Linked DNA regions of Homo sapiens: all the other regions are linked to region 1. Evidence: fine-mapped expression QTL. A gene starts in region 1. Each other region holds a variant in brackets. All regions are shown on one strand. Distances are between the middles of the regions.

Evidence for each region. PIP is the estimated chance that this variant, and not a neighbour inherited with it, causes the effect.
Region 2: its variant is fine-mapped to the expression of NEK6 in whole blood (TOPMed, PIP above 0.99).
Region 3: its variant is fine-mapped to the expression of NEK6 in nasal epithelium (TOPMed, PIP above 0.99).

The regions. Positions count from the first base shown.
Region 1 is chr9:124,250,595-124,260,519 of GRCh38, forward strand. It overlaps NEK6 (NIMA related kinase 6), which reads left to right and starts at 7,355. Exons shown (of 10, transcript NM_014397.6): 1 at 7,355-7,491. LOC613206 (a long non-coding RNA gene) reads right to left here. Exons shown (of 2, transcript NR_149024.1): 2 at 8,616-8,900. RefSeq lists silencers at 1,596-1,890, 7,375-7,504, 7,565-7,934 and enhancers at 3,627-4,006, 4,017-4,106, 4,137-4,226, 7,972-8,917.
Region 2 is chr9:124,234,132-124,244,056 of GRCh38, forward strand. No RefSeq gene overlaps it. Among named protein-coding and RNA genes, the nearest start is that of NEK6, 19 kb to the right of the region's middle. RefSeq lists enhancers at 5,593-5,642, 5,773-5,822, 8,388-8,904, 8,905-9,421. The variant A/T (reference allele first, on the strand shown) is at 2,743.
Region 3 is chr9:124,223,214-124,233,138 of GRCh38, forward strand. No RefSeq gene overlaps it. Among named protein-coding and RNA genes, the nearest start is that of NEK6, 30 kb to the right of the region's middle. The variant C/A (reference allele first, on the strand shown) is at 7,429.

The DNA of each region.
Region 1 (9,925 bases):
GTGCCACCACGCCCAGATAATTTTTGTATTTTTAGTAGAGACGGGGTTTCACCTTGTTGGCCAGGCTGGTCTTGAACTCCTAACCTCAGGTGATCCACCTGACTTGGCCTCCCAAAGTCCTGGGATTACAGGTGTGAGCCACCGCACCCAGCCAGGGGGTACTATTATTAATTATGCCAGGACAGTAGGCATCACCCAGGACCATCCTGCAGGCACAGGTGATTCTTTGTTGGGAGAGAGTTCCAGTTTTCCCAGAAGGATTCATTCGCTCTTGTCATCCAGGTGCGATTATTGACAGCAACCCCTTTCCCTCTGCAAGTGTCTTGCTTTGGATGATCAACTTTAGGGTCACCTTGGGTGTCTGCAAAGGCCACTGCGTTGGGGGATTCATTTTTTACATTATACAAAATGGGGGTGTCTTGTCTGCTGGGCTCTTTGCCACATACTGATGTCTGGGTGTCCCGCCAAGAACTTCCAGGAGAGTTTAAGCAGTTAAGTCACATTTTTAGGAGCAGCAAACCCTGCTGGCTGCAGAAGGAGTTGGGACCCTCTCCACCTCCTCCCCAGCCCTGCCACCACTCCCTGTGTGACCCCGGGCCACTTCCTGCCTAGCACAATGTGGGGATGGGTCTCCAAGAGTCCTGTCAACCTTGACCTTCTAAGATTTCCTGTTACCCGATGACCCTGGGGAATTTCAGTAAAAATTGGGATGCAAGAAACATCACACCATCATATGGCTCACTGGTCACACCATGAATCCTAGGTCTTTCCTGTGCCAGGCTCTGGGCAGCTGCTGGAAGCCAAGGCATATCCATCAACACTCCTGCTTCATGGGAGGAGAGAGACGAAGCCAGCAACAGATCGGCCTATTCAACTCAGCATCAGGAGAGAACAGGTGCCAGAAAGCAAGCGGGGATAGAGTCCCAGTGTACTGTGAGCTTGCAAAACACCTTCAAAGGCCAAAATCACATTCCCCCAATACCCCATTGCCATGTCTGTTGCCTCTCAGCAGCCAGAAACTCCTACTCTCTTCCTGAGGAGCACAATGATTTTGACAGTTTCTTTGGGCGACTGACATCGCACCAACTCCTTTGTGATTTTAGTATTCGTGGTCTCTGAGTCTGTATCCTCATCTGTACAATGGGCAACAATCTCTACCTCAAAGTGCAGTTGAGAGTATCAGGTAAGGGAACAGACAGGAAATGCAGTTCATATGCAGTTCATGGTGCTCCCTGCAGGCCGTAGGATTTGAGTCTGCTAGTTGAAACAGCAGATATTAGAGCGGGTGGTAGAGGGAAGTTCAGGGAGGTGCGGGGAGGTGGGAAATCAGAGAGTACATTTCTGCCTCTTGATGGCTGTGTGGCCTTGAGCAAGTCCCATCTGTAAAGTGAGGGTGGGAATGATAATCCTTGATAACTTCTTTTTTTTCCACATTCCAGAAACCACCTGGGGAGTGGGGTCTCCAACCGTGTCGGGCGAGGACTCAGAGTTGGCAGCAGTCACTGCCAAAGGCAGGAGGAGATAACCAGTTAGCAGGCCTGTCACAAGATCAGCAACGCATGAAAGACAAAATGCTTCCCTGCGGCAGGAAGAGCCGACGCTTCCCTGCGGCAGGAAGAGCCGATGACACACTGCACTTAAAGTATTCCTCCAAGCCCCACCTCATTCTTCCCAGATCCTCTAGCCTTGGAGCACAGCCTCCAACTCTTCACTGAGCATTTTCAGGAGTACAATCTCAGGCGACTACCCCAATCCTGCAAGAGAGGCTGCCTGCCCCCCTTTGACAGATGAGGAAACTGAGGCCCACAGTGGGGAAATGGATGGCAGGAACTTGAACTGCAGAGAAGAGGCAGACTGAGTTTTCAAGTCTCAAAAGAACCTATGTCTGGACTCTTAAAACAACTCTACAGATGCCTGGAGCAGAGAGTTTTAAAAATTAGCTCCAAAGCTAACCTCATATACAGGCATGGGGACCCGTGGAGAGAGTACTCTTCTCTTCCTCTCCAATGTTCCTGTCCCCAACCAGACCATAAAATCTTGAGGGCAGGGGCCATGGCTGAAACTTCTGTTCTCTCCCACAATACTTAGAACAGTACACAGAGTGTTTGCTCTATGCGGATTAAACAGAGCAGATGCTTGCTGTATGTGGAATTTTTGTGTGTGTGTGTGAGACAGACTCTCACTCTGTCGCCCAGGCTGGAGTGCAATGGTGCAGTCTCGGGCTCACTGCAACCTCTGCCTCCTGGGTTCAAGCGATTCTTCTGTCTCAGCCTCCCGAGTAGCTGCGATTACAGCTGCCCGCCACCACCCCCAGCTAATTTTTGTATTTTTAGTAGAGACAAGGTTTCACTATGTTGGCCAGGCTGGTCTTGAACTCCTGACCTCAGGTGATCCACCCACCCTGGCCTCTCAACGTGCTGGGATTACAGGCGTGAGCCACCTCGCCCAGCCTCTATGTGAATTAAATGCAAATCGTTTGGAATACTATGCAGTCATATAAAAGGAAGCAGTTTTTCTGGAGCCAACAGGAAATGGTCTCCAAGAAGTGAAGAAAACATAAGATACACAATAGTGTAGATTGTATGCTATTATATGAGCAAAAAATAAGAAGAAATACATATACATTCACATACACACGACCATATATACGTGCATACATATATACACACCCACACAAAACACACTGTCTAGGACAGCATATATTCGGCAACGTTGGCTCCCTCCAGGGATAAGAACCAGGTGGCTGGGAGGTAGGGGTAGAAAGGACACTTTTCACTTTGTCCCCTTCTGTGCCTTTTGAATTTTGAACTGTGGGCAAGTATTATCTATTCAAGCAACAAATTAAACATTTTTTAAGTTAAATAACAAAAAATGAGCCAGCTACTTTATAAAGTGAGCCATATGATGATGTGATGACTCCTACATCCCTATCCTGACCGAAATTCCCCCGGGTCATCAAGTAACAGGAAATCTTAGAAGGTCAAGGTTGACAGGACTCTTGGAGACCCATCCCCACATTGTGCTAGGCAGGAAGTGGCCCGGGGTCACACAGGGAGTGGTGGCAGGGCTGGGGAGGAGGTGGAGAGGGTCCCAACTCCTTCTGCAGCCAGCAGGGTTTGCTGCTCCTAAAAATGTGACTTAACTGCTTAAACTCTCCTGGAAGTTCTTGGTGGGACACCCAGACATCAGTATGTGGCGAAGAGCCCAGCAGACAAGACACCCCCATTTTGTATAATGTAAAAAATGAATCCCCCAACGCAGTGGCCTTTGCAGACACCCAAGGTGACCCTAAAGTTGATCATCCAAAGCAAGACACTTGCAGAGGGAAAGGGGTTGCTGTCAATAATCGCACCCGGATGACAAGAGCGAATGAATCCTTCTGGGAAAATTGGAACTCACCCCCTACAAAAAATCCCATTACCGGGAAGATGGCAAGAAGATATTTTGTAACAAAGGAACTTCAAAGGAACATGGCCTGATTCTAAGTTCTTCTTGCCTCTCCTCTCTCCCCCATTACCCCCTCCCCCAATACTAACAACAATAAAGGACTTGAGTTAACCTGGATTCAAATCCTGGCTATTTTCTGAGCCTCAGTTTCTTCATCTATAAAACATAAATCATGACCCCTATCTCAAGGGATGCTATAAGAATTAACTGTCTCTTACAGAGCCAGATGCAGAGAAGGTGCCCGGCAAGCGGTAGTTTCTCTTCCCTTCGTGCAGAGAAATAATGAAACAACACATACTGAATCCTGAAACTCTTTGGGGGTGAACGGAGACAGACTTTCTCCCAGACCAGTTGAACAACGCCTCGGTGGGCAGAAGTGTGAGGCAACGTGTGCAGGGAGACGCTCATCCTAATTCTGGGTGTCATTTTGCAAAGCACTGCTTCACGATGACTCATTTTGGGACTCCCTAAAAACTCCTTTGAGTTAAAAACAAAAGTTGAGTGGGATTCAGCTTGCATTGTACCTTATCACTCTACTGTGCCCTCGTCAGTGTATCAGAGTACTGCAGGGAATTCAAGAATCTCTGAGCAGGCTAACCCTGATATTTGCCCCATAGTGTCACCAGGAGCTGGGACCATCTGCACAGGGCCCAGGACAGAGGGAAAGAAGTGGCCATGAGGGATGGAGGAGGAGGAAGGCCAGGAAAATGGGGTGCATGGGCCTCCCCTACCCTGCTCCCATCCAAGGGGGAGGGGGACCCCCAATGCAAAAGCACTCCTGGGTCCTCCTACCTATCCCTGCTTTATTTCTCCATCAAACTTTTTTTTTTTTTTTTTGAAACAGAGTCTTGCTCTGTTGTCCAGGCTGGAATGCAGTGACATGATCTCAGTTCGCTGCAACCTCAGCCTCCTGGGGTCAAGCAATTCTCCAGCCTCAGCCTCCCGAGCAGCTGGGATTATAGGCACGTGCCACCATGCCCAGCTAATTTTTTTATTTTTAGTAGAGATGGGGTTTCGCCATGTTGGCCAGGCTGGTCTTAAAGTCCTGACCTCAGGTGATCCACCACCTCGGCCTCCCAAAGTGCTGGGATTACAGGGTGAGCCACTGCGCCTGGTCTCCACCAAACTTCTTATCTTTGAAATGCCAGACATTCACAGTGTCTTCCTCCCATCCCACTCTCCCACCTTGGCTGAAGCCCCAAGAGAGTCAGAGCTAGATTTTTGTTCACTCCTGTATCCCAGGACAAGGCTTCTTTATTCCCCTAACACTCAGCCTGCCTGCAGCCAGACCTACCTCTGTTGATTATCATTGGCTGTGTGACCTGGGACAGATTGCTTGACCTCTCTGAGCCTCGGTTTCCTAACTGGAAAATGAGGACATCACAAGTATCTGTCATACGGGTTCTGTGAAGCTGGGGAAGGGCTTTGCAAGCAGTAAAGTCTTACATAGATATTGTGTGTTGGGGGTGGGGGCAGTCCTTTCCTCCCAGTGGCCTGGTGCGGCTCTCAAAGTTTCCTTCAAAAGGGAGTTTCTGGTTCTTGCTCTGTAGCTTAACTGAATAGCTGCCAGAACATGGGACCTGCCCTCCACACAGTGGGCCCCTACTGACTTCTCCCACTCCCTCATTCAGGCCTCTGCTCAGATGTCACCTCATCAGAAAGGCCTTCTTCCAGCACCCCCTATAAAAAAGCACCCCTGGGTCCTCCTACCCTTCCGAGTTATTTCTCCACCAAACTTCTTTTTTTTTTTTTTTTGGAGACAGAGTCTCGCTCTGTCACTGAGGCTGGAGTGTAGTGGCGCGATCTCGGCTCACTGCAAACTTCGCCTCCCGGGTTCACGCCATTCTCCTGCCTCAGCCTCCCAAGTAGCTGGGACTACAGGCGCCTGCCACCATGCCCGGCTATTTTTTTGTATTTTTAGTAGAGACAGGGTTTCACCGTGTTATCCAGGATGGTCTCGATCTCCTGACCTTGTGATCCGCCTGCGTCGGCCTCCCAAAGTGCTGGGATTACAGGCGTGAGCCACCGCGCCCGGCCCAAACTTCTTATCCTTGAAATGGCAGATATTCAGTGTCTTCCTCCCACCCCATCCCTCCCCCTTGACTGAAGCCCCAAGAAAGGGCCATATTTTGTTCACTCCTTTATCCCAGTGCCTAGAAAAGTACCTGGCCCATGGAAGGTGCTCATAGATGTGTCGGGTGAACCAATGACTGAACTAATGTTTGCTGCATGAATATGGCCAGTATCACAAATCCTCTAGTAACACTGCAATACGCTGTCTCAGAACTTCGATTTCTTTCTATTATTTGTTGCAGTGTTTATTTCTTCTATTTAACTTTTCAATCTGTCTGACATTTATTGTGGTGTATATCATGGGAGGCAAGGCTGTAAACAGATCTCCAGCTAAACGGCTAAACAATTTGCAGAACAATCCATTTCCTCCCCATTGGTTTGTGATGTCTGCATTTTCATCCACAAGAGCTGGGACCAGGCCCGCTCCTGTGGGCCAGCTGCTGCCTCGTCTGCCCTCTTGTTCCAGAAGCCCAGGGCTATGCTGTTCCTGAGGCAGGGCTGCCTAGTGATTGGCCACACAGGCACTGGAATTAGACAATCTGCCGTGCACTTTCCAGCTCAACCACTTACCATCTGGGTGACTTTGAACAAAAGAATTTGCTTTTTATTGTTGTTGTCCAGGTTGGAGTGCAGTGGTGCGATCATAGCTCACTGCAGCTGCTAACTCCTATGCTCAAGAGACCCTCCCGCCTCAGCGTCCCGAGTAGCTGGGACTGCAGGCAGGCACTACCACACCCAGCTAATTCTTACATTTTTCTGTAGACATGGGGTTTTGCTATATTGCCCAGGCTGGCCTCAAACTCCCAGCCTCAAGGCATCCTCCCACCTCAGCCTCCCATAGTACTGGGATTACAGGTGTGAGCCACCGCACCCAGCCTGAAATTTCATTTCTAAGCCTCAAAGCCCATCTGTAAAATGGGCACAAGGGTAACGTTGGCACACGTGGTGGACGCTCCGTTGGTGTCATTATTACAGATCACGGCCAGTTGAAGCACTTCCACTCATTTGGCAAACAGAAGCCAGACGGGCATTCACCCTGTGCCCAGTACAGTGCTGCGCCCAAGCAGGCAGTCAGTGTCCCTGGCTCCAGCCCTCCTGGGGTGCAGCACAGTTTTGAATGTGGAGGGGAGGCAGCAGGGGTGGAAACAGCCCAGCCAGGAGCGGCCGCTCTCGGTGCGGGGAGGAGGTGAAGTGAGAACTGAGCTGCTTGGGTCTCAGGGAGGCTCTGACTTCTAGAGGGGGCGTTCAACATTCTTTAGTGGGGACTTTTACTACTTCCAGAAACCTCTGCACATTGGCTCTTGCTGGTCCCCCGGGGGCCACAGGAAGTGGGAGCTCCAGATGAAGAGTCGCTGGCACTTTGAGGGCAGGGGGCAGGGCCTTCCCCTCATCGGAATACTCTTGGAGCCTACTTCAGTGCCTGCATTCAGCTGGTGCACAATAAGTGCTTGTTACTGTGCCAATTTCAGTATGACTAGGGCTGTGGTAGGAGCAATGCTAGGCGATGGGGAATCCGAAGACGCACAGGAGTCCAAGGGTTGGCTGACTGCAGACCCTCATCATAAGTCTAGAGCCGGAGAAGATGGGGAGACGCCGGCCTGCGCCCTGTGAGTCTGGGCCTCAGTCTTCCCATCTCTGAAATGGGGAAGGGGTTCCTCGGCCGAGCGGATCGGCCGCAGAACTCGGCGGAGTCGAGGGGTCCAGGCCCAGGAAGGACGCCGCCGGGGCGCCCCCCGCCCCTCAAGCTTGCGTGGCGGCAGCGCGCACGAGCGCTGGGGGCGGCGCGGCCCCGCGGCGGGGAGGGGCGGGCGCGCGGGCGCGCGGGCCCGCGCAGGCGGTGGCGGCGGCGGCGGAACCGAGCTGACGGGCGTGCGGCCGCTGCGCCGCAAACTCGTGTGGGACGCACCGCTCCAGCCGCCCGCGGGCCAGCGCACCGGTCCCCCAGCGGCAGCCGAGCCCGCCCGCGCGCCGGTGAGTCGCCTGGGGCTGGGGCCGGGCCGGTGGGGCCCCGCGGCCCGGAGAAGGGCGGGGGCCGGGCGGCGGGGCCGTCACCCCCAGCCGGGCCGAGGGCGGGCGCGCGCCCACGGCTCCGCGGGGGAGAGCGGGAGGCGGGCGCGAGTGTGGCCGCGCGGGGCTGAGCGTGTCGGCGGCCGGGCGGGCGGGGGCGGCGTGTCCGCGTGTCCCGGGGTGTGCGCGTCCCCGGCGGGTGTGCGTGTGCACCCCGGAGCGTCTGGTGGCGTTGTTGGGGTGAGTGCGTGCGGGGACGCGGGCATGGCTCCCCGCTACCCACTTCCCGAGTGGGGACGACGGGCGGAGGAGTGTGCCGGGCGCCGCAGGGAGTACGTGCGGGTCTCAGGGAGTGTGTGTGTGCACGTGTGTGCATTCCAAAGTGATTTGTGTGCAAGCACATGCGTGAGCCTAGAAGGGCGAAAGTATGCCTGTGTGGGTGTGAGTATAACGAGTGTGCAGGGCCGTGCGAGCGTGTTTATTACTGAGGTTGAGGGGCCGGCCCCCTTTGCGCCCACCAGGCCTTTGCACAGTGATGGCCCCCGAGCCAGGGAGCCCGTGGAGAGAGAAGCGGCCTGGCATGGGCTGGGGGTCGGGGCTGGGCCTGATCCGGTGAACCAGGGGCCAGGAGGGCAGACTCAGAGCCTGGCTGGGCCTGACAGAGGCAAAGGTCTTAGAGCCAGGCTGCGGCAGGGCCACTGGCAGGACCCTCTCTGCATACACAGGCTGGGCGAGCGGAGGCTGTGGTGGGCCCCTCGGCCGGGCACCCGAGGACGTGTGTTTTCCTAAATATCCTCCAGGCTCTCCTGTCTTTGTTCTTGTCTCTCTCCAGCCAGGCCTGGGGGGCTGACCCTAGACTTGCCTGTGTATGTGGGGGCCTCTCTGCCTGCCCTGCTAAGTAGACGGATCTTTTGATTTATTTATACCTCTCCTAGGCTCCAAGTGTGAATCCCAGGACAGTAACAAATTGATCACAGCGGGCTTGGGACACCAGCTTCCGAGGTCTGTCCTTGCAGTTTTGACTGACAGGCTTTTGTGTGTGTGCGTGCTCTCTAACTGTTGAAAATCTTTGCAGCTGAAAGTCTTAATTGCTTTAAGGCAAACTTTAGAAATTCCAGAGCTCCCTAGTTGGTCTGACTTTTCCAAATTCAGCTTGCCTTTTTTGGGGGAAAATGTCGCCTTAGTTTGGTGTACAGTACGTGCAGGCAGGTCTTGGAGGCACGTTTAAAAACCCTGTCGTTAATGGAAGAAGAATTTCATTGAAAGGGACGCAGAGCCGTCTGGAAGCGCCTGCCCCGGACTCAGCGAGTTTGGACTCAGCGAGTTTGAGCTTACCGAATGAACTTTGGACGTCTTCTTTTAGCAAACAAAACCTGGAAGGAAGCAAAAAAGACCCACATTCTTTTTCTTTTTTCTCCTGAAAATGAAAAAAAGAAAACACCTTCTGGGTTTGCTGGAAATGCCCCCTCTCCTTCCCCCATCAAGGCCAAGCCCTCGCTGCGTCCCCCACCCCCAAATAAAATATGCCTGTGGGGAGCCGTGGAATGAGTCACTCCCTGGCAGAGAGCCTGACGGGCAAACATTTGGGAAGGTTCTTGCCTAACTTCCCAGAAGAAAAGGCCCAGGATTTAAAATGGTCCCTGTGGTTTGTCAGCCTCTGCTGTCCCGTCTGCTTCGGAAATGACTAAAAAGTAGTTTGTATCTCCACAAAATAAAGTCTCAGACTGAAGGCCTTAGACCCAGGTTGGTCTGGATTTAGAGCTGTTTGGGTTTCCAGAAATGGAGCGCCTGGCTTTAACTGGTGGCATTTCTGGTGGGTTTGAACAAGGGCAGAGGAGGGAAATGGGGAGGAAGTTCCCTTTTGCGGAGCAGAAGGGGCTGTGTGCTGGGAGCCGTTCTAGGGGGTGTGAATCTCCCGTTGGTCTTCTGTGACAGAAAATGCTTTTGGTTTTGTGCACAAGGAAACTGAGGCACACGGGGGTCAAGCCTGTGTCCTGGGGCAGCTGAGAGGAGGTGGGGGCAGAATCCGAAGTCACCTGCCCAGCCTCACAGCCTTTCCTCTTTCCATTGCACTTGGGATATGGTATTTGACTGGCTAAGGTGCACAGACCTAGTGCTGAGTACTTTAGCACACATCCGTTCATTTTCTGCTCATCGTAGATAGGGTTTATTATCCCCATTTCACAAATGATAAAACTGAGGTTCAGAGACATGACTTGCATAATTTCATTAAAGTAGCACCACGATAGATGGTCCCCATTTATTTTTATTTATTTATTTATTTATTTTTGAGACAGAGTCTCACTCTGTTGCCCAGGCTGGAGTACAGTGGCGCAATCTCAGCTCCCTGCACCCTCTGCCTCCTGGGTTCAAGTGAGCCTCCTGCCTCAGCCTCCTC
Region 2 (9,925 bases), 16 kb before region 1:
AAAGTGCTGGGATTACAGGCGTGAGCCACCACACCCGGTCTTTTTTTTTTTTTTGTAAGACAGGGTTTCATTCTGTGGCCCAGGCTGGAGTGCAGTGAAGCAATCTTGGCTCACTGCAACCTCCACTTCCTGGGTTCAAGTGATTCTCCTGGCTCAGCATCCCGAGTAGCTGGGATTACAGGTGTGTGACATCACACCTACCCAGCTAATTTTTGTATTTTTAGTAGAGATGGGGTTTTACCATGTTGGTCGGGCTGGTCTTAAACTCCTGACCTCAAGTGATCTTTCCTCCTCGGCCTCCCAAAGTGCCAGGATGACAGGCGTGAGCCACTGTGTCCAGCCATAATATGTTTGGCTTTGAGTACACTGTTTAAATAAAGCAACACCTAAGGGTGTCACTGGGAGGTCTATGAAATAGGCTGAAGTATTAAAAACCAAGCAAAAATAGTAAGAAAAGCTGAGAAAGAAACATGGAAAGGAAAAAAAAAGGAGTGAAAAAAGATTGGCAAAGTAGTGCCTCACCAAGAAAATGTCTTTCATGCTGTTTAGTGATATTCTCGGTTAAAAATTTCTAAAAGCTGTGGAAAGCAAGTCAAATTTTGTTCTAGCCTTCTGCTGTGAAAACATTAGGTAACAAATATGTGTCAAATCTATTGTTTTCCAAAATATGGTGTTCATGCTTGAAATACGCCATTGCCAAATAAAGTCTATTTTTGATATACATAAAAAAAGAAGAAACAGAAAACCCAAATAGTCCTATACATCAATTAAGGAATAGAAATTCATAGTAAAAACTTTCTCATGAAAAAATTTCCCAGCCCAGATGGCTTCACTGGTGAATTTTATTAGTTAAATTTATTTTAAAAGAAATATTAATTCTACAGAAACTCTTCCAGAACGTAGAAGGAGAGAGCAAAACTCCTAACTAATTCTATGAACTCAGAATTACCCTGATACTAAAGCATGACAAAGATACAAGAAAAGAAAGCTATAGGCCTATATCCCTAATGAATACAGATACAAAAATCTTTAACAAAACATTAGCAAATCAAATCTAGTAACGTACAGAAAGGATAATATATGAAGACCAAGTAGGGTTTATCTCAGGAATGCAAGGTTGGTCCAACATTCAAAAATAAATCAATGTAACTCAACATATCAATAGACATAAAAAGAAAAACTATATAGTCATCCTTTTTTTTTTTTTTTTTTTTTTTTGAGACAGAATCTCGCTCTGTCGCCCAGGCTGGAGTGCAGTGGCAAGAGAAAAACTATATGATCATCTTAATAGAGGCAGAAAAAACATTTGATAAAAATTTACTCATGATTTTTACAAAAGAAATTTTCAGCAAACTGGAAATAGAAGGGAAATTTCACAATCAGATAAATAACATCTACAATAAGACCTACAGCTAACGCTATACTTAATAATGAAAGATTGCTTTCCCACTAAGATTGGGAACAATGCAAAGATCTCTACTGTTGCCACTTTTATTCAACATTGTACTAGATGTCCTAGATAGTACAATACAACAAACAAGCAAATAAATAAATATGTAAATAAATGGCAGATTGGAAAGGATTAAGTGAAACTGTGTTTGTAGAGAACATGGTATCTACATAGAAAAGTATACTACAAAGCTAATAGAAATATGTGAATTTAGCAAGGTTGTAAGATATACAGCCAATATGCAAAAGTCTATTGTATTTCTACTTAACAGTAATTTTAAAATTTAACATTGAAATTAAAAATCGGCTGGGCACGGTGGCTCACGCCTGTAATCCAGCACTTTCGGAGGCTGAGGTGGTGAATTACGAGGTCAGGAGATCAAGACCATCCGGCTGAAACCGGATGTTGAAAACCCGTCTCTATTAAAAATATTTAAAAAAATTAGCCAGGTGTGGTGGCAGGCACCTGTAGTCCCAGCTACTTGGGAGGCTGAGGCAGGAGAATGGCATGAACCCGGGAAGTGGAGCTTGCAGTGAGCCAAGATTGAGCCACTGCATTCCAGCCTGGGGGCCAGAGCAAGACTGTGTCTCAAAAAAAAAAAAAAAAAGAAGAAGAAATTAAAAACCAATACCACTTACAATAGCATTAAAAACATGAAAAGTTAAGGGACAAATATCATGAAATAGGATTTGTACATTGAAAATGGAAAATCATTACCAAGAGAAATAAAAAAAATCTAAATAAAAGGAGAGATATACAATGTTCATGATGAGAAGACTCACTACTTTAACAAAATATTAACAATTCTGAAGAATTATGTTAGTACTTTCCTAATTGATATTGCAATTTCAATCAAAATCCTGGCAGGCTTTTTTTTTTTTTTTTTTTTGGTAGATATTGACAAGCTGTTTCTAAATTATATATGGAAGTGCAAAGGACCTAGAATAGCCAAAACAATTCTGAAAAAGAAGGAAGAAGTTGGAGAACTCACATTACTTTATTTCAAGACTTACTATAAAGCTACTATACGCAAGACAGCATGGTGATAGCGTAAGCTTAGACCTATGGATCAGTGGAACAGAAATGATTCCAGAAATAGACCAATATCCATTTGGTCAGTTGATTTTTGACAAAGGAACCAAGGTAATTTCAATGGAGAAAGAATAGTCTTCTCAACAAATGGTGAAGAAACAATTAGACATCCATATCCAAAAAAAAGAACCTCAACCCTTACCTCCCACACCATGAAGAACTTCAAATGGATCATAGACTTAAATAGAATATAAACCTTC[A/T]AAGAGATAATAAAGGAAAATATCTTTGTGATCTTGATAAAGATTATTTAAACAGGATGCAAATAACATAAACCATAAAAGTCAAAAATTGAAAAATTAGCCTTCAAAATTAAAAACTTTTCCTTTATGAAAGTCACTGTTGGGAAAATAAAAAGACAAACCAAAGACTGGGAGAAAATGTCTGATAAGTAACTGGTCTCCACAATTTTAAAATAACTCATAACTCAATCGTTAGAAGACAAACTAACCAACAATAAAATAGTCAAGTACTTTGAAGAGGCACTTCTTCAAAGACATATGGACGGCAAATAAGTGCATTAAAAAAATTCAACATCATTATTCATTAGGTAAATGCAAAATAAAGCCACAATGACCAAGTGCTACACACTTATAGAATGGCTAACATTTTTAATACTAACAATACAAAGTGCTGGTGAGGATGTAGAGCAGCTAGAATATATATTGCTGTCAGGGATGCAAAACTGTACAACCATACTGGGAAATAGTTTGACAGGTTTTTTATTTCGTTAATAGATGAACCTTGAAAACATTACGCTAAGTGGAAGAAGCCAGTCACAAAAGATATATTATCTGATTCCATTTTCTGAAATTTCCAGAATGGGTAAATCCAGAGAGATAGACAGTTGATTAGTGGTTGCTTGATGCTCGGTGGGGGAAGGGATGATTTCTCTTTTGGTGACGAAAACATCTTAAAATTGACTGTGGCGATGGTTGCACATATCTGTGACTATACAACAAACAAACACTGAATTGTACTTTTTAAATGGATGAAGTGGATTGTGCGCTAATTATATCTCAATAAAGCTGTTTTTTTTAAATAAAAATATTGAGCTAGGTGAATCTTCACATTTCTCCCGCTCTCCATTTCCTATCTCCATAGTTTTTCTTTTTTCCAACAAGTATTTCTTGGCTGCTCCCAAGCTATTCATGTTTCCAGTTCTCTCTCTTCCTTTTCCCCCCTCAAATGTTCCTGCATCAGCCCATAACCTGAATGGCCAAAGAAAGGATTCTCCTGGGGAGTGGTGGGTGCAAAAGAAGCTACAAGGCAAACACAGAATTCTCGTTCTCCATGGGGCAGGCCTTGGGCCCCAGGACCAGGATTAGGTAAGGCGAGTGAGGTATCCAGGACCCAAAATAAAAAGAGGTACTCACCCAGGGCATGTAAGTGAAGGTCGGCTCCTGAGAATGGATGCATCCTTACATCTTTTTTTTTTTTTTTTTGTAGTAAAACACACATAACAGAAAATTTACCAGTTCAATCATTTTTTTTGTTTTGTTGTTGTTTTTGTTTTTTGTTGTTGATGTTGTTGTTGTTGCTGTTGTTGTTTGAGACGGGTCTCGCTCTGTCGCCAGGCTGGAGTGCAATGGCGCGATCTCAGCTCACTGCAACCTCCGCCTCCAGGGTTCAAGCGATCCTCCTGCCTCAGCCTCCCGAGTAACTGGGACTCGAGTGCTCCATCATGCCCAGCTAATTTTTTGTATTTTGGATAGAGATGGGGTTTCACCATGTTGACCAGGATGATCTCAATCTCTTGACCTTGTGATCTCCCACCTTGGTCTCCCAAAGTGCTCGGATTACAGGCGTGAGCCACCGCGCTGGGCTGGTTCAATCATTTTAAAGTGTACAATCAGTGGTTTTCAGTACATTCGCAATGCGTGGAACCAGCACAACATTGTCTAATTAAAAGATATTTTCTTTTTTTCTTTTCTTTTCTTCTTGGTTTTTGTTTTGTTTTGTTTTGAGACAAGTTCTCACTCTGTCACTCAGGCTGGAGTATAGTGGTGCAATCGCGGCTCACTGCAGCCTCAACCTCCCAGGCACAGGTAATCCTCCCACCTCAGCTTCCTGAATAGCTGAAACCACAGGTGTGTGCCACCACACCCTGCTAATGTTTAAATTATCTGTAGAGACGGAGCCTCACTATGTTGCCCAGGCTGCTCTCAATCTCCTGGGCTCAACTGATGTGTCTGCCTTGGCCTCTTAAAGTGCTGGGATTACAGGCATGAGCCACTGCACCCAGCCCCAAGACATTTTCATTACCCTAAAAGAAAACCCTTTAGTCACAAGTGTGGTTCCAGGTGTGAGCTGGCTTTGTGATCTGTAGAGCTGAGGGTAGAAGCTTCCATTTGAAACGTCTGCTCAGGTGGCTGCTGGAATGTGGCTGGACTTCAGGTAGACTATACCTTAGTTGGCCCTACAGAGGCATCTAAGAAGTTGTCCAGAATTTGAAGTTCTATAAAAGGAGACCCATTTACAATACACGCAAGGGAGCTGACTATTGAAAAGAAGCCAGCAGTGAATCCTTTGGTGTGCCTTTGTGTTGAATAAATTGGAATTTTTATAGATTGGGTTTGCAGCTCAACCAAGTTCTGAAAAGTGTGAGTCCAAACCGCATAGAGGTGAAGGTGGCAGGACTCAAGTTTCTATGGTTTTAAGGGTACAGGGACTTTCTCCTGCGCAATAATCTCATCTAAGAGAAGCCCAGGGCCTCCCACGTGGGCTTGTAGAGGGCAGGCTCCAGACTACAGAGAAAAGGGGAAACTGTGTTTTCCCCGCCCACAGAGACTGAAGGTCAGACCAGATCACGTTAAAGCAAGAAGACTTGGTATTCTTCCCTGGGGAATTTGTAGGTTACCAAGATTGGCAGGGAAGGGGAGGAGGACCAGAGATGTTCTAGAGTGTCACTCGATCCCCATGTATGGAGGGAACATTAACCCTGTGTCACGCACTTGGCACTTGGTACTTATTATTCCATTTAATTTCCCCAGCAATCCCTTCACTCACAGGCAAAGCCTGCAATTACCAACAAGGTAAAGTGGCTGACCAAGGCCACAGGCAAGTCAAGCCCTGGGGCTAGGATTGGAACCCAAATCTCATGGCTCAAGTCTTGAGGCTGACTCCACCAAGCCACTGTGAAGTCCCCCTGAGAGCAACCAAGAGCCAGGCATGTGGGGGGTAACAGGGCTAGAGAGGATGTTCTCAGTGGGCAGTGCTAATGTGACCCTGTGGGAGGGACATTCCTGTCTTCTCTTTTTGGTTTGTCTTGGAAAGTCCCACATCTTTTGCAGAACTGCTTCCTGGTATCCCTATCTGGAATTTACACCAAGGACAGCCAAAGGCCAAGACTGGCTTAGAGGCCTGAGGAGTGGGGATCAGAGAAAAGGGTCAGTCCATCCTGTGCAGCCTTCCCGGCCTGGGCCCCTGTGAGTTGATGGAGGAAATCAGTGGCCATCGTTCCCCTATCCTTATCCTGAGCAGGGGTACTGGAGGCCCTGGGAAAGCCCCCTGAGCTAAGACTGATCTTCCTTGCCCAAAAATAGCTGCCTGGGATTCAAAGAGACTGCATGGGAAGAGGAGGAACTTCAGATTCACACCTGGGTTCAAATCCTGGTTCCATCCCTTACTTGCTGTGTGACCTTGGCCAATGTCCCTCACTTCTCTGCACCTTGGTTTCTCCATCTGTAAAGTGGGATCAACCATCATCCTATGGAAGGGGCCAGTCCACAGGAAACACCTCTCATCAGGGAGTGGGAGCTGTTAGGAGGTTTCTCAGCATTCCTCTAGCTTCTAGAAGCCCCCTTCCAAGGAGTAAAACCTGTGCCTAAAGTGCTAGTGCTCTGGCCTAGGCACTGGCTTGGCCCTGGGGAGCTACCATGATGGACCAGTTATGGTCCCTGCCCTTCCGGAGCACAAAGTCTAGGGAGGAGGACAGAGCCTAAGCAGGCAGAGCCACACGTGGGATAGGGCTGCAGCAAAGGGACACACAGGGGCCCCAAAAGGGAAGGAGGATCCTGCCTGGGGTCAGGGAAGACTCCACAGGGACAGAGACTGGGGGCGAGAGTTTAAATCTTTAATAACCTGTTTGTCACAGTCACTGACCAATCAGAAAGGACACTGGCTGTAAACAATCCACAGCACCCACCAGTGTCTACCAGCTGATGATGAATGCCCTGGGAAGGGGCATTGATTGGGGTGCTGGCGGATGAATAAGAGTTCTTTCGACAAGTGGGAAGAAAGGGCACCCCAGGCAAAGGGAGCACTACGTGCTCAATCCTGGTGACAGGAAAAACCACGGCTGGAGCATAAGATGTGTTGGGGGAAGGTGGGGCATGAGAGCAGAGAGGGTCTCGAATGCCACTACATTTGGGAGACACGGTTAGGACTTCTCTGATGTGGCACTCCACACTGGTGACCCAGTTGAACAGGCACTGCAGTGAGAGTTTTCAGGGTCTGGACACGCCTCCTCTCCCAGGTCCACGACATCTACATGGGGCAGAGCTCTTACTAGGGGTCCAGGCTCAGGCTCCATTCTCTTGGGAGAGGGGCTGGCAAGGTGGGTCAGGAAGAGAGGCTCAGCCAAGGGGCTCTAGAGAGCCTTTTGAGTGGGGAAACTGAGGCCAATGCTCAGATGTATGAGTGGGATCAAATCAGTGGGAGGTGGAGACACTGGTGACCTGAGCTTCCCTGAGCTTCCCTGGCTTTGAGTCCTCCCCCTAGAGTGGCACTGAGGCCTCCTGTTAGCTCAGGAAAAACTCAGGGATGTTTTAAGGGTCAAGTTCTAGCACCAGCTCTGCTGCTGATGAGCTGTGACCTTGAGCAAGGCACAGACCCCTCTGGGCATGGGGACCCTGTTGATTGCTTCCTTGGAAATGGAAGATGTCCCAGGCTGATCCTGTTCTGCCAGCCTCCCTGACCTGGCATCATGGAGAATGTGAGGGCTTCAGATTCAGGCAGAGCTGAGTTTGAATCTCTGCTTTGGAAATGGACTGGGTGTTTGACTTGGACCAAGTGCTAAGCTCTGGGCCTTTATTTCCCCATCTACAAAACAAGGAATTGATTGGTGAGATTAGCGTTGAATGGAATAAATGAAAAACTCTGGTGGGGGGGGGCAGCTGGGCACAGTGACTCGCGCCTGTAATCCCAGCACTTTGGGAGGCCGAGGTGGGTGGATCACCTGAGGTCAGGAGTCCAAGACCAGCGTGGGCAACACGGCGAAACCCCGTCTCTACTAAAAATACAAAAATTAGCTGGGCATGGTGGTGCATGTCTGTAATCTCAGCTACTCAGGAGGCTGAACCAGGAGAATCACTTGAACCCAGGAGGCGGAGGCTGCAGTGAGCCGAGATCGTGCCATTGCACTTCAGCCTGTGTGACAAGAGTGAAACGCCTCTCGAAAATAAAAAATAAAAAAAAATAAAAAAGAAAGAAAAGAAAAAGAAAAAACTCTGGGGACTGGAGACAAAATAGTAAAAGGAGGTGGTAGAGAGCCTTGCTTCCGCCCTCACCTCCTATGAGGTGCCCTCTGCTTGCAGAATCTCTCAGCAGCCGGACTTTTGCAGAAGCTGCAGGTCAGTGGTGAGTGAGGAGGAAGGCTGTATCATTGATTGTTCTCCCAGGACACTTTGAGCATGAAAGGGGGCACCGTTAGTAATAAACAGCCATAAACCTGGGCTGTCCTAAGGAAACCAGAGTTTATGATGCCCCTGGTGATGAGTGGAGATTCAGAAATTGAAATGGAGAGGCGGAAGCGGGACACGATTGAGGAGGGATGTGAGCAGGTGCCAGGAGGCGCAATCTTTGGAGAGAGGGTGTGGTGCCCAAGCAGGCTTTGGGAGGCTTTTCTGCGGGAGGTACCGATTCGCTCCCCTCTTCTGGGTCCCAGGTGAACTTCAGGAAAGAGCAGCTTTGCTTTGCAGCAGTTTGGGAGCTGGATTGGGGCTGGATACGTTTTGTAACCTTATGCCTCTGCACGCTGGTTGGCTGCTTCACTTTTTTCTTGGTTATAACTTCCTGCAGAGACTGGTCTTCGGCTGGGAGCAGGAAGGCACTCTTAGAGTTGGGTTAGGAAAGTAAAGGCGCTTTTCCGATGCCTAGAAGGCAGTAGCTGCTTAGTAAACGTTCATCCCCTGCCATCTTAACCAGCAAGCGCCTTTGCTCTGGGACCCTGGTCCACGGTTGCTTCAAGCCCCCAGAGGAACCGCTGCCTTCATACTCCTCCAGATGGTCTAAGCCCTCCTGCCTCCCACCCCTCCCACACACGAATGCAGGAAGTCCTCTGAGAGCCTGCTGGATCAGTTTCCTTTCCGCTTCCTTTCTCTTCCTCTCCGGTGAGGGCTGGGACGCAGCTGGCGGAGTTGGGGGGGGTTCTCCCCCAGACTGCTTCTCTGCACAGCCTCCTTAACGCGTCACTCACAGGGCCTGCATTCCTCCAACTTTAATGCCTCCTCTGGGAACACAGGCTTCCAGAAACCTGAGATGACCAACCAGCCGGTGCAGGCCAGAGGGAGAAGGGCCCAGACGGTGAGGGGGAGAGTGAGGGGCTTGACTTCTGCCTTTGCTGAAAAGAGAAACCGCAGGCCTCCCCCTCCCCTTTCAGCTTATGGGACTTCTAGACCAGGGAGCAAAAAGCACTGGCTCTTGCCAAACCCACTTAGGGAGATGGAAAAGGAAAGATGGCACGATAGTTTGTAAAGGTGGAAGATCTTTTGTCACATACACCAGGTACAAAGGTTTTCATACTGGGACCCTTTACTGTCCCTTTAGGCTTCTAGAACAATAGGGCAGACTACTAGCAGAACCAAAAACAGAGAGGTGAACTAGGATTAAGTAATGGCTCCCAACAACTGCCTTGCAACTCCCAAATATTTAATAAGCAGCTCTTATTTAATAATCAGCTCCTGCCAGCCAATGTACCCCAGCTCTAGCATACCACTGGTCCTATCTATCCCCCTCTCAGGCCCTGATCACCTGAGGTAGGGAGTTTGAGACCAGCCTGGCCAACATGGTGAAACCCTGTCTCTACTAAAAATACAAAATTAGCTGGGAGTGATGGCGGGCGTCTGTAATCCCAGCTACTCAGGAGGCTGAGGCAGGAGAATCCCTTGAACCCGGGAGGCGGAGGTTGCAATGAGCCAAGATCGTGCCATTGCACTCCGGCCTGGGCGACAGAGCAAGACTCCGTCTCAAAAAAAAAAAAAAAAAAAGAATCCTGGCCACACAGCCATGAAGTAGAGGTTCAAACCCAGGCTGGTTTCACAGTATCACATCACCTCCCAAGTGTATATGGCCACGTACAGTTGGAAGCATCGCCACTCCTGCACCCTTCTCCCTGGTTAACTAGTGAAATTCTTCCCTTGGGGATTTTATTCATTCCATTGATGT
Region 3 (9,925 bases), 27 kb before region 1:
TCACAGGTGCCGCCTGTCCACATGCAGACACAGACACACACACACATACACACACACACACTCTGACAGTTCCCCAATGGCCAGCCTCCTCCACTGACTCCCCACAGCCAGGTGCTCTGACACCCTCCTTGGTGGGACCCTCTCTCTTCAAGGCGCCCAGAGCCACCTGGCTGTCCTTGGAACTAAGTGAGCACCCTGCCCACCCCCAGCCTTGTCCCCTAAACTGGGTGGTTTAGGTCTGAGGGGTGGGGAGAAGGCTGCCCAGAGTCCAAAGTTCAGGGGCCAACATCTTGTTTGCAGGCGCTGGTGGAAATTGCACAACCTGCCAGCTGGGTGACTTGGGCTTATTGTCTCTGAGTTCCCCTTGGCTGCAGGCCCAAGCCCAGCCAGTGACCTGTTTCTCTGGAAGAGGGTGGGGAAAGTGGTTCCTCCCTCCCCTGCCTGGGGAACTGGTGGCCCTCCCTGGGCACTGGTGGCTGGTCCCCAGCTATGTGTGCAACACACCTGACACTGAGATGCACAGAACTCAGCATCCAACCTGTCCTTTCCCAGATAGGAAACTGAAGCTCAGGGAAGGAAAGGCTTGCCCAGGGTCACCCAGCAAGGAGGCCCAGGAGGACTGGAACTCAGGCTCAGTTTCCTTTCTTTTCTTTTCTTTTTTTTTGTGATGGAGTCTCACTCTGTGGCCCAGGCTCGAGTGCAGTGGCGTGATCTTAGCTCACTGCAACCTCTACCTCCTGGGTTCAAGCGATTCTCCTGCCTCAGCTTCCTGAGTAGCTGGGATTATAGGCACGTGCCACCACACCCAGCTAATTTTTTCATATTTTTAGTAGAGGCAGGGTTTCACCATGTTAGCCGGTCTGGTCTCAAACTCCTGACCTCAGGTGATCTGCCCGCCTCGGCCCCTCAAAGTGCTGGGATTACAGGTGTGAGCTACCGCGCCCAGCTCAGTTTTCTTTCAAACCCTTTATCAAAAGAAATATAATCCAAAGCCAGACAGTACTAATGCAAATGAGCAGAGCTACCGTGGGTGCAAAAGGAAGGGACCCCAGAGCCCGTGAGTAGAGACCACTTTCCCTTTCCACACCTACCGTGGCTAAGTCAGTTAGTCAAAGGGTCACTGTGCCATATCACCAGATCATTGAGCTTAACAAATCTATCCCGACTTAAAACATTTTATTTATTTATTTATTTTTGAGACAGGGCCTTGCTCTTGTCACCCAGGCTGGAATGCAGTGGTGCAATCTCAACTCACTGCAGCCTCAACTTCCCGGACTCCACCCATCCTCCTGCCTCAGTCTCCCAGGTAGCCGGGACCACAGGCATGCACCACCACACCCGGCTAATTTTTGTATGTTTTGTAGAGATGGGGTTTCGCCATGTTGCCCAGGCTGGTCTCAAACCCCTGGTCTCAAGCGATCTGCTCACCTTGGCCTCCTGAAGTGCTAGGACTACAGGCATGAGCCACCCCAGTGAGCTTTTTTTCATTTTGTTTTAATTTGTAAAAGTTCCCACTGTGTGCATGAAATGAATTAGCAAGGCCATCATGGCTACGGGGGGTCAGGATCTGGGGCCTTCAGATCCCTCTCACCTCTGGGACCTGCAGCCCAGACTGGGCTTAGATCTCTATTCTGTTCCCCTCCAGTGGCAGCATCAGGGACATGGGGTAGAGACAAACTGAACATTCCTGAAAATCCAAGAAATCTTCTAAAGCTTTAAAAACCCATCCCATGCCTGCCTGTCTTTTCCCTCTCCCCTTCGCTGCCTTTCTGTATCTCTCCCTTCTTTCCTTTCTTCCTCCTGCCTGCCTACCTTTCTCAGTGCATCCAGTCAAAATCATGAGGCTCGAGGATGACAGTCACAGTGGCCCTTGTGAGGCTGGACCTGGGCGGCAGCCTGCTGCAATCAAAGATGGGTATGCACCGGGGCAGAGCAGAGGTATAGCTTAGCATGGACAAGAGGATTCAGGTTTCTCCTTGATGAGGCAGGGAGGCACAGATGCAGAAAGGAGGAAACCAGCTGGGTGCGGTGGCTCACGCGAGTAATCTCAGCACTTTGGGAGGCGGAGGCAGGCGGACCACCTGAGGTCAGGAGTTCAAGACCAGCCTGGCCAACATGGTGAAACACCGTCTCTACTAAAAAATACAAAAATTAGCCAGACATGGTGGTGTGCACCTGTAGTCCCAGCTACACAGGAGGCTGAGGAAGAAGAATTGCTTGAACCCGGGAGGCAGAGGTTGCAGTGAGCCGAGATTGTGACACTGTACTCCAGCCTAGGCAACAAGAGTGAGACTCTGTCTCAAAAAAAACAAAACAACAACAACAAAAAAAAAGCCAGGTGCAATGGCTCACACCTGTAATCCAAGCACTTTGGGAAGCCGAGGCGGGCGGATCACTTGACGTCAGGAGTTCAAGACCAGCCTGTCCAGCGTGGTGAAACCTGATCTCTACTAAAAAATACAAAAATTAGCCATGCGTGGTGGCGTGTGCCTATAATCCCAGATACTCAGGAGGCTGAGGCAGGAGAATCACTTGAACCCAGGAGGCAGAGGTTACAGTAAGTCGAGATCACACCACTGCACTCCAGCCTGGGTGACAGAGTAAGAATCCGTCTCAGAAAAAAAAAAAAAGGAGGAAACTGAAGAAGCCCATAGTGTTGGGCTGGAGTTGGAGCTCTCAGTGAGAACACATGGTGAGAATCTGTGTTTATGTGGAGAGAGAGAGAATATAGACAGAAAGGTGTGTCTATATATATACATGTATATGCACCTGCATGCATATGTGTATACATATATGCATATTTGATGTGTGTGTGTGTGTGTGTATTTTCAGCTCTGTTCACCAAGAAGGTATGGGAGCAGCAATGCTCTGGTAGCAATGAACATACCCAGTGCCAAGATCTTGTTTTCAAAATGCCATTTGGAGGAAGGCTGAGTCCTGGCTGGGAGAGAGGAAGAACAAGATGAACCTGGAACACCTTGTTGTGGCAAAAAGTCACTAAGCATTCAAAGCATAGTGTGGACATGTCAAAGGGACACAGGGGCCAGCTGGATGGGGCCACACCAAATCTGGTGTAATTGAAAAATCAAAATTAATAATGATAGCAATGAATGATAACCCACTGAATAAAATAGAAACCCCTGACTCCAACTGCTATAAACAAAAAAACGAATAAGTAACCGGACAGAAGAGAAAGCTTTTCCTGACAGTAGAATGTCAAATCATACAGAAAGAAGGAAAACCACCTTTGTCAAATATGATCATAATTATTATTTCAGGTAAGAAACATCGATGGAACCAGGTTAAAACTAGGGATGTAAATGGAGTGAAGAACAGGATATTAGCTTAGCACTGGAGCCCGGGAGTTCCAGTTCAGCCTGGGCAATATAGCTTGAGCCTATCTCTAAATAAATAAATAGACAGAAAATGAACAATTCTAGGAAAAACAGAAAGCTGCACAAGAGAATAAATGCAATCACAGTACTCTACATTGCTGGGCTATCAACACTGTTCACATGGCCACAAAATAAACCCCCAATATTTATCTAACCAAAAATTATGAGATGAGATGATCATATAAGGAAGATGGTACCAGGGGAAGTAGGGGCAGCGTGGTATGGGAAGCAAATTCTAATCTTCCAAAGTAAGAAGAGAGTAGATTATACATAAAACTGAAAGTCCAGAAATAACGGTATAGACATGTGATAACAGTGGAAGCATAAAGGCAAATAAAAAAGAAACTTGTTTCTTGTTAAAAAGCAGTTACCTCTGATGGTTGGGAACTGGGAGCAAAGATGGATTAGACAGGAGACAGCTGTTTTTCATTGTTAAGTCTTGCAGAACAAAATGCATGTAAAATTTTTTGAAAGTGAAATCAAAATATAAAAATATAATTAAAAGAAATACATGTTTAGGCCAGGCACAGTGGCTCATGCCTGTAATCCCAGCACTTTGGGGGGCCGAGGTGGGTGGATCACTTGCGGTCAGGAGTTCGAGACCAGCCTGGCCAACACGGTGAAACCCCATATCTACCAAAAATACAAAAATTAGCCGTGCGTGGGGGCACACTCCTATAGTCCCAGCTACTCAGGAGGCTGAGGCAGGAGAATCACTTGAGCCCAGGAGGCAGACGTTGCAGTGAGCCGAGATCATGCCACTGCACCCCAGCCGGTGGGGCAGAACAAGACTCAGTCTCAAAAAAAAAAAGAGAAATACATTTTGAGATAAGCAGTAAATTTGGATAATTGGTTGAGTTGACCATTTAACAAAATCTTCAAAGGATCCTTCAGATGCTAAAGTTCTGATAAGACAGAAAATTACTTTTTTTCAGAGGTTTTTAAAAACAATCAGTCTAAAAGCTAAAGTTCCCATGTGATACTGTGAAAAACATATTCATAGGATATTATTTAAGAAGAATAGACTGGGTACAGTGGCTCATGCCTATAATCCCAGCACTTTGGGAGCCTGAGGTGGGCGGATCCCGAGGTCAAGAGATTGAGACTATCCTGGCTAACATGGTAAAACCCTGTCTCTACTAAAAATACAAAAATTAGCTGGATGTGGTGGCACATGCCCGTAGTTCCAGCTACTCAGGAAGCTAAGGCAGGAGAATCACTTGAACCCAGGAGGCAGAGGTTGCAGTGAGCTGAGATCGTGCCACTGCACTCCAGTCTGGTGACAGAGCGAGACTCCATCTAAAAGAAGAAGGAGGAGGAGGAGGAGGAGGAGGAGAAGGAGAAGGAGAAGAAGAAGAAGAAGAAGAAGAAGAAGAAGAAGAAGAAGAAGAAGAAGAGGAGGAGGAGCACTAGAAGAGCAAATGTATTATGAACTTTGGACAAATTAAATAGTCCTTAAAATGGAATATAGCCATTGGAAGAATGTACATTAAACATAATTTTAAAATTTTTCTTTTTTTTTTTTTTGAGACACAGTTTCACTCTTGTCACCCAGGCTGGAGTGCAATGGCGCAGTCTCGGCTCACTGCAACCTCCGCCTCCCGGGTTCAAGTGATTCTCCTGCCTCAGCCTCCTGAGTAGCTGGGATTAGAGGTGTGTGCCACCACACCCATAGAGATGGGGTTTTGTTCGCCATGTTGGCCAAGCTGATCTCGAACTCCTGACCTCAGGTGAATCACCCTCCTCGGCCTCCCAAAGTGCTGGGATTACAGGAGTGAGCCACCATGCCAGCCAAAAAGAATATTTCTTAAACAAGTTTTTGAAAAACCAGTCAATTCGGTAATATGAGGCAGTGGTCCTTCAATGAGTTTTGGAGAACTGCCTTTTGTCCAATCGGCCTTTGAAGGTGTGGCAGCTTCCCCTACACCTGAAAGAGGTCCCACCCCAGGACACAGGCCCTGGCCTTGGGCATGGCAGGCCAGTCTCCCCCAGACCCACCCACTGACAGCCTCCCAGCAGGAGGGAACTCACACTCCTCACAACAGCACTTTGTGGTGTAAATACAAAACCCCATTTTACAGATGAGAAAATGGAGGCTTGAAGAAGTGAATTGACTTGCCCAGCGCCTCATAGTCAAAAAGTAATCAAACTGGACTTGGCACACAGGTTGACAAACCCCAAGGCCAGGATTCTCTCCTTGCTCCCCCAACCCTTGGATCTCCCACCTGCTGGCGCCAGACCTAATTAGGAGCTCTGCTGGCCCCTGAGGTGGGTTGGGAGGTGGGTGTGTCATTAGATTGTGAGATTCTGGAAGCTCCCGCCATGTGTCATTATGTCTAATTACATGAGTTCAGGCTTCTGCGTGGGCTGGTGGAGCCAGAGTGTCTCCGTGCCCAGGTGGCCAGGGAATTTCTGCAGCCAAGAAGTGGATGAGAGGCCGCTGAAGGACCCCGGTAACATGTTCCCCAAATCTCCTGGAGAAAGCCGAGTTCCAGGCCCCTCCCGGAGGCTGAAGGGTGGCCCCGATGGGGAGTTGGGGTCTCTCCATGCTTCTCGGGGTGCACTTAACCAGACTCCTACCTGGGCAGGGAATAGAGTAGAAGGAAATGGCTGCATGAGGGGCACAGCCCCTAGTCCCCTCATCCCAGCCCCAGACGGACAGACTCACACATGCATATGCACACACAAAACACAGAAACATGGTGTTGGAACAAATATCTGGACTTTTTTTTTTGGTAGATGAATCTGCTCTGTCATCCAGGCTGGAGTGCAATGGCATGATCTTGGCTCACTGCAACCTCTGCCCCCTGCTGGGTTCAAGCGATTCTCCTGCCTCAGCCTCCCAAGTAGCTGGGATTAAAGGGGCCCACCACCACACCCAACTAATTTTTGTATTTTTAGTAGAGACGAGGTTTCACCATGTTGGCCAGGCTGGTCTAACTTCTGACCTCAGGTGATCCACCCACCTCGGCCTCCCAAAGTGCTGGATTACAGGCATGAGCCACCATGCCTAGCCAAATATCTGGACCTTTGAGTAAAGAGCTGCTTACACTTTCATCAGTTCCACTGGGTGTTCACTCTGGGGGAAAGGCAAGTGAGAAGGAACATGGAATAGGGACAGAACGTGGTCACTGTCCTCCCTAGGCAGACATGGGTGAGGGAGGCGATCTTTTGCACGTGCTCATTTAATAAGCAGGTATTGGCCGGTCATGGTGGCTCATGCGTGTAATCCCAGCACTTTGGGAGGCCGAGGTGGGTGGATCACAAGGTCAGGCATTCAAGACAAGCCTGGCCAAGATGGTGAAACCCCAACTCTACTAAAAATATAAAAATTAGCCACGCGTGGTGGCGGGCGCCTGTAATCCCAGCTACTCAGAAGGCTGAGGCAGAGAATTGCTTGAACCTGGGAGGTGGAGGTTGCAGTGAGCCTAGATTGGGCCACTGCACTCCAGCCTGGACAGAGCGAGACTCCATCTCAAAAAAAAAGAAAAAAAAAAAAAAAAGCAGGTGTTGAGTGACTTCTGTGTGCCAGGCATTGTTCTAGGCATTGGGGTTATAAAATAAAGTCCCTCTTCTCAAGGGGAGAGAGACAATAACCATACACTAAATATGTAATGTACCAGATGGTGACAAGCAGAGTGAGGGTGAGGGGCCACTGCTCATAGATGATTATCTGGCTGGAGAAACAGTCAAACCTTTCCCCACTGACTTCCCAAACCCAGAGGATAGATGGAGAAACGACTTGGGGAATAGAAAAAAGGACCCACCTCCCCAGGTGCCTTCTCCTCCTTCTTCTCTTCTCCCTCTCCTCTAATGTTGTTTTTCCTTTAAACGTTACTTAAAACAGACCAGGCTCAGTGGCTCACGTCTGTAATCCCAGCACTTTGGTAGGCCGAGGTAAGAGGATCACTTAAGGCCAAGAGTTTGAGACCAGCCTGGCCAACATTGCAAAACCCTATCTTTATGAAAAATACAAAAATTAGCCAGGCATGGTGGTGTGCACCTGTAATCCCAGCTATTTGGGAGGCTAAGG[C/A]ACCATAATCGCTTGATCCTGGGAGGCGGAGGTTGCAGTGAGTGGTGATCAGGTCATGGCACTCCAGCCTGGGTGACAGAGAGAGATTCTGTCTTCAAAAAATATACAAATAAATTTTTTTAAACAGTTACTTAAAACATACGGGAGGTGTAGAAAATTATATGACAAATACTCATGTACCCGCTACCCCTGTTAAAAAATGAAACTTTAGGCTCGTAAAAAAATAAAAACTGGCTGGGCGCGGTGGCTCATACCACGGCACTTTGGGAGGCCGAGGTGGGCAAATCAAGAGGTCAGGAGTTCGAGACCAGCCTGACCAACATGGCAAAATCCCGTCTCTACTAAAAAGGCAAAAATTAGCTGGGTGTGGTGGCATGTGCCTGTAATCCTAGCTACTCAAGAGGCTGAGGCAGGAGAATTGCTTGAACCAGGAGGCAGAGGTTGCAGTGAGCCAAGATCACGCCACTGCACTCCAGCGTGGGCAACAGAGCGAGACTCTGTCTCAAAAAACAAACAAACAAACAAACAAACAAAAAACTTACAAATATAATCAAAGGTCCCCATGTTAGCCAGGAAAGGCTAGGTTATGCTGTAGTAACAAACAAACCCCAAATTTCAGTTGCTTTAAACAACAAAGGTCTGCTTCTATCGCATTCTCGATCCAGTGAGGGTTGACTACATTGGGCTATGTTCATTGTAGTCTCTTAGGAACCCAGTCTGAGGGATGCTCCACTATTTATGATGCTGTGATCTCAGCAAAAGGCTTCAAGATTCACCAGGTAAGGAAGGGAGCAAGAAGACTCAGGTGCTGGCTCTTAGATGTTTCCATTTGGAAGCGGCATGTGTCAGTTCTCCTCACATTTCATTGGCTAAAGCAAGTCATGTGTCCATGTCCAGCTTCGAAGGGGAAGTGAAGTATAATCCTCTCATGTGCTCAGAAGAGAACTGACATGGTGGTGAGCATTGTTAATATCTACCGCTTTTCTTATCCCATTTCCATCTACCCTTCACTCCCAGCAATAAGACCCATCTAGAAGTTGTTATGCATCCTTTTCACCTGTGGATTTTAAAAAACTTTTAGTATGCCTGTATACATCAACAAAGAATATATAGAAAGAAAGCCAGGTGCGGTGGCTCATGCCTGTAATCCCAGCACTTTGGGAGGCCGAGGCAGGCAGATCGCTTAATGTCAGGAGTTCGAGATCAGCCTGGCCCACCTGGTGAAACCCTGTCTCTACAAAAAATACAAAAATTAGCCAGGTGTGATGGCACATGCCTGTAATCCCAGCTACTGGGGAGGCTGAGGCACAAGAATTGCTTGAACCCAGGAAGCGGAGGTTGCAGTGAGCCAAGATCGTGCCAATGCATTCCAGCCTGATTGACAGATCAAGACTCAGTCTCAAAAAAAAAAAAGTATATATATATATATATATATATATATATATATATATATATATATATAGAAAGAAATCACAAAGAAAACTAGAAAATATTTTGAGCTGAATAACAATGAAAATGTAACATATCTAAGCCTATGTGATACAGATAAAGCAATACAATAAAGGGAAAGTTATAACATTAAATGGCTTTATTCAAAAGGAAGAAAGTCCCAAAATAAATACATTTGCTAAGCTTCCACCTTTAGGAACTAGATAAAGAAGAGCAAATTAAACCCAAAGCAGGTAGAAAGAAAGAAATAATAAGATAAGAGTAGAAATCAATGACTAGAAAACAGAAAAACAAGAGAGAAAATAAATGAAACCACAAGCTGCCTCTTTGAAAACATCAACAACATTGATAAACTTCATCTTCAATCAGTAGAAAAGAGAAAGTCACGGGCCAGGTGCAGTGGCTCATGCCTGTAATCCCAGCACTTTGGGAGGCCGAGGTGGGAGGATCACGAGGGGAGGAGATGGAGACCATCCTGTCTAATGTAGTGAAACCCCGTCTCTACTAAAAATACAAAAAATTAGCCAGATGTGGTGGCGTGTGCCTGAAGTCCCAGCTACTCGGGAGGCTGAGGCAGGAGAATTGCTTGAACCCAGGAGGTGGAGTTTGCAGTGAGCCGAGACAGTGCCACTGCACTCCAGCCTGGGCGACAGAGCAAGACTCCATCTCAAAGAAAAAAAAAAAGACACAAATTACCAACAAGAAAAATGAAAGCCTGGGTGCAGTGGCTCTGCCTGTAATCCTGACACTTTGGGAGGCTGAGGCAGGAGGATTGCTTAAAGCCAGGAATTCAAAACCAGCCTGGGCAACACAGCGAGACCCTGTCTCTACAAAAAGTAAAAAAATTCGCTGGGTGTGGTGGCTCATGTTTGTAGTCTTAGCTACTTGGGAGGCTGAGGTGGGAGAATCCCTTGAGTCTAGGAGGTCAAGGCTGCAGTGAGCTATGATAGCGCCATTACACTCCAGCCTGGGTGACAGAGCAAGACCTTGTCTCAAAAAAAAAAAAAAAAAAAAAAAAAAAGAAAGAAAGAGAGGGCATCCCTACACA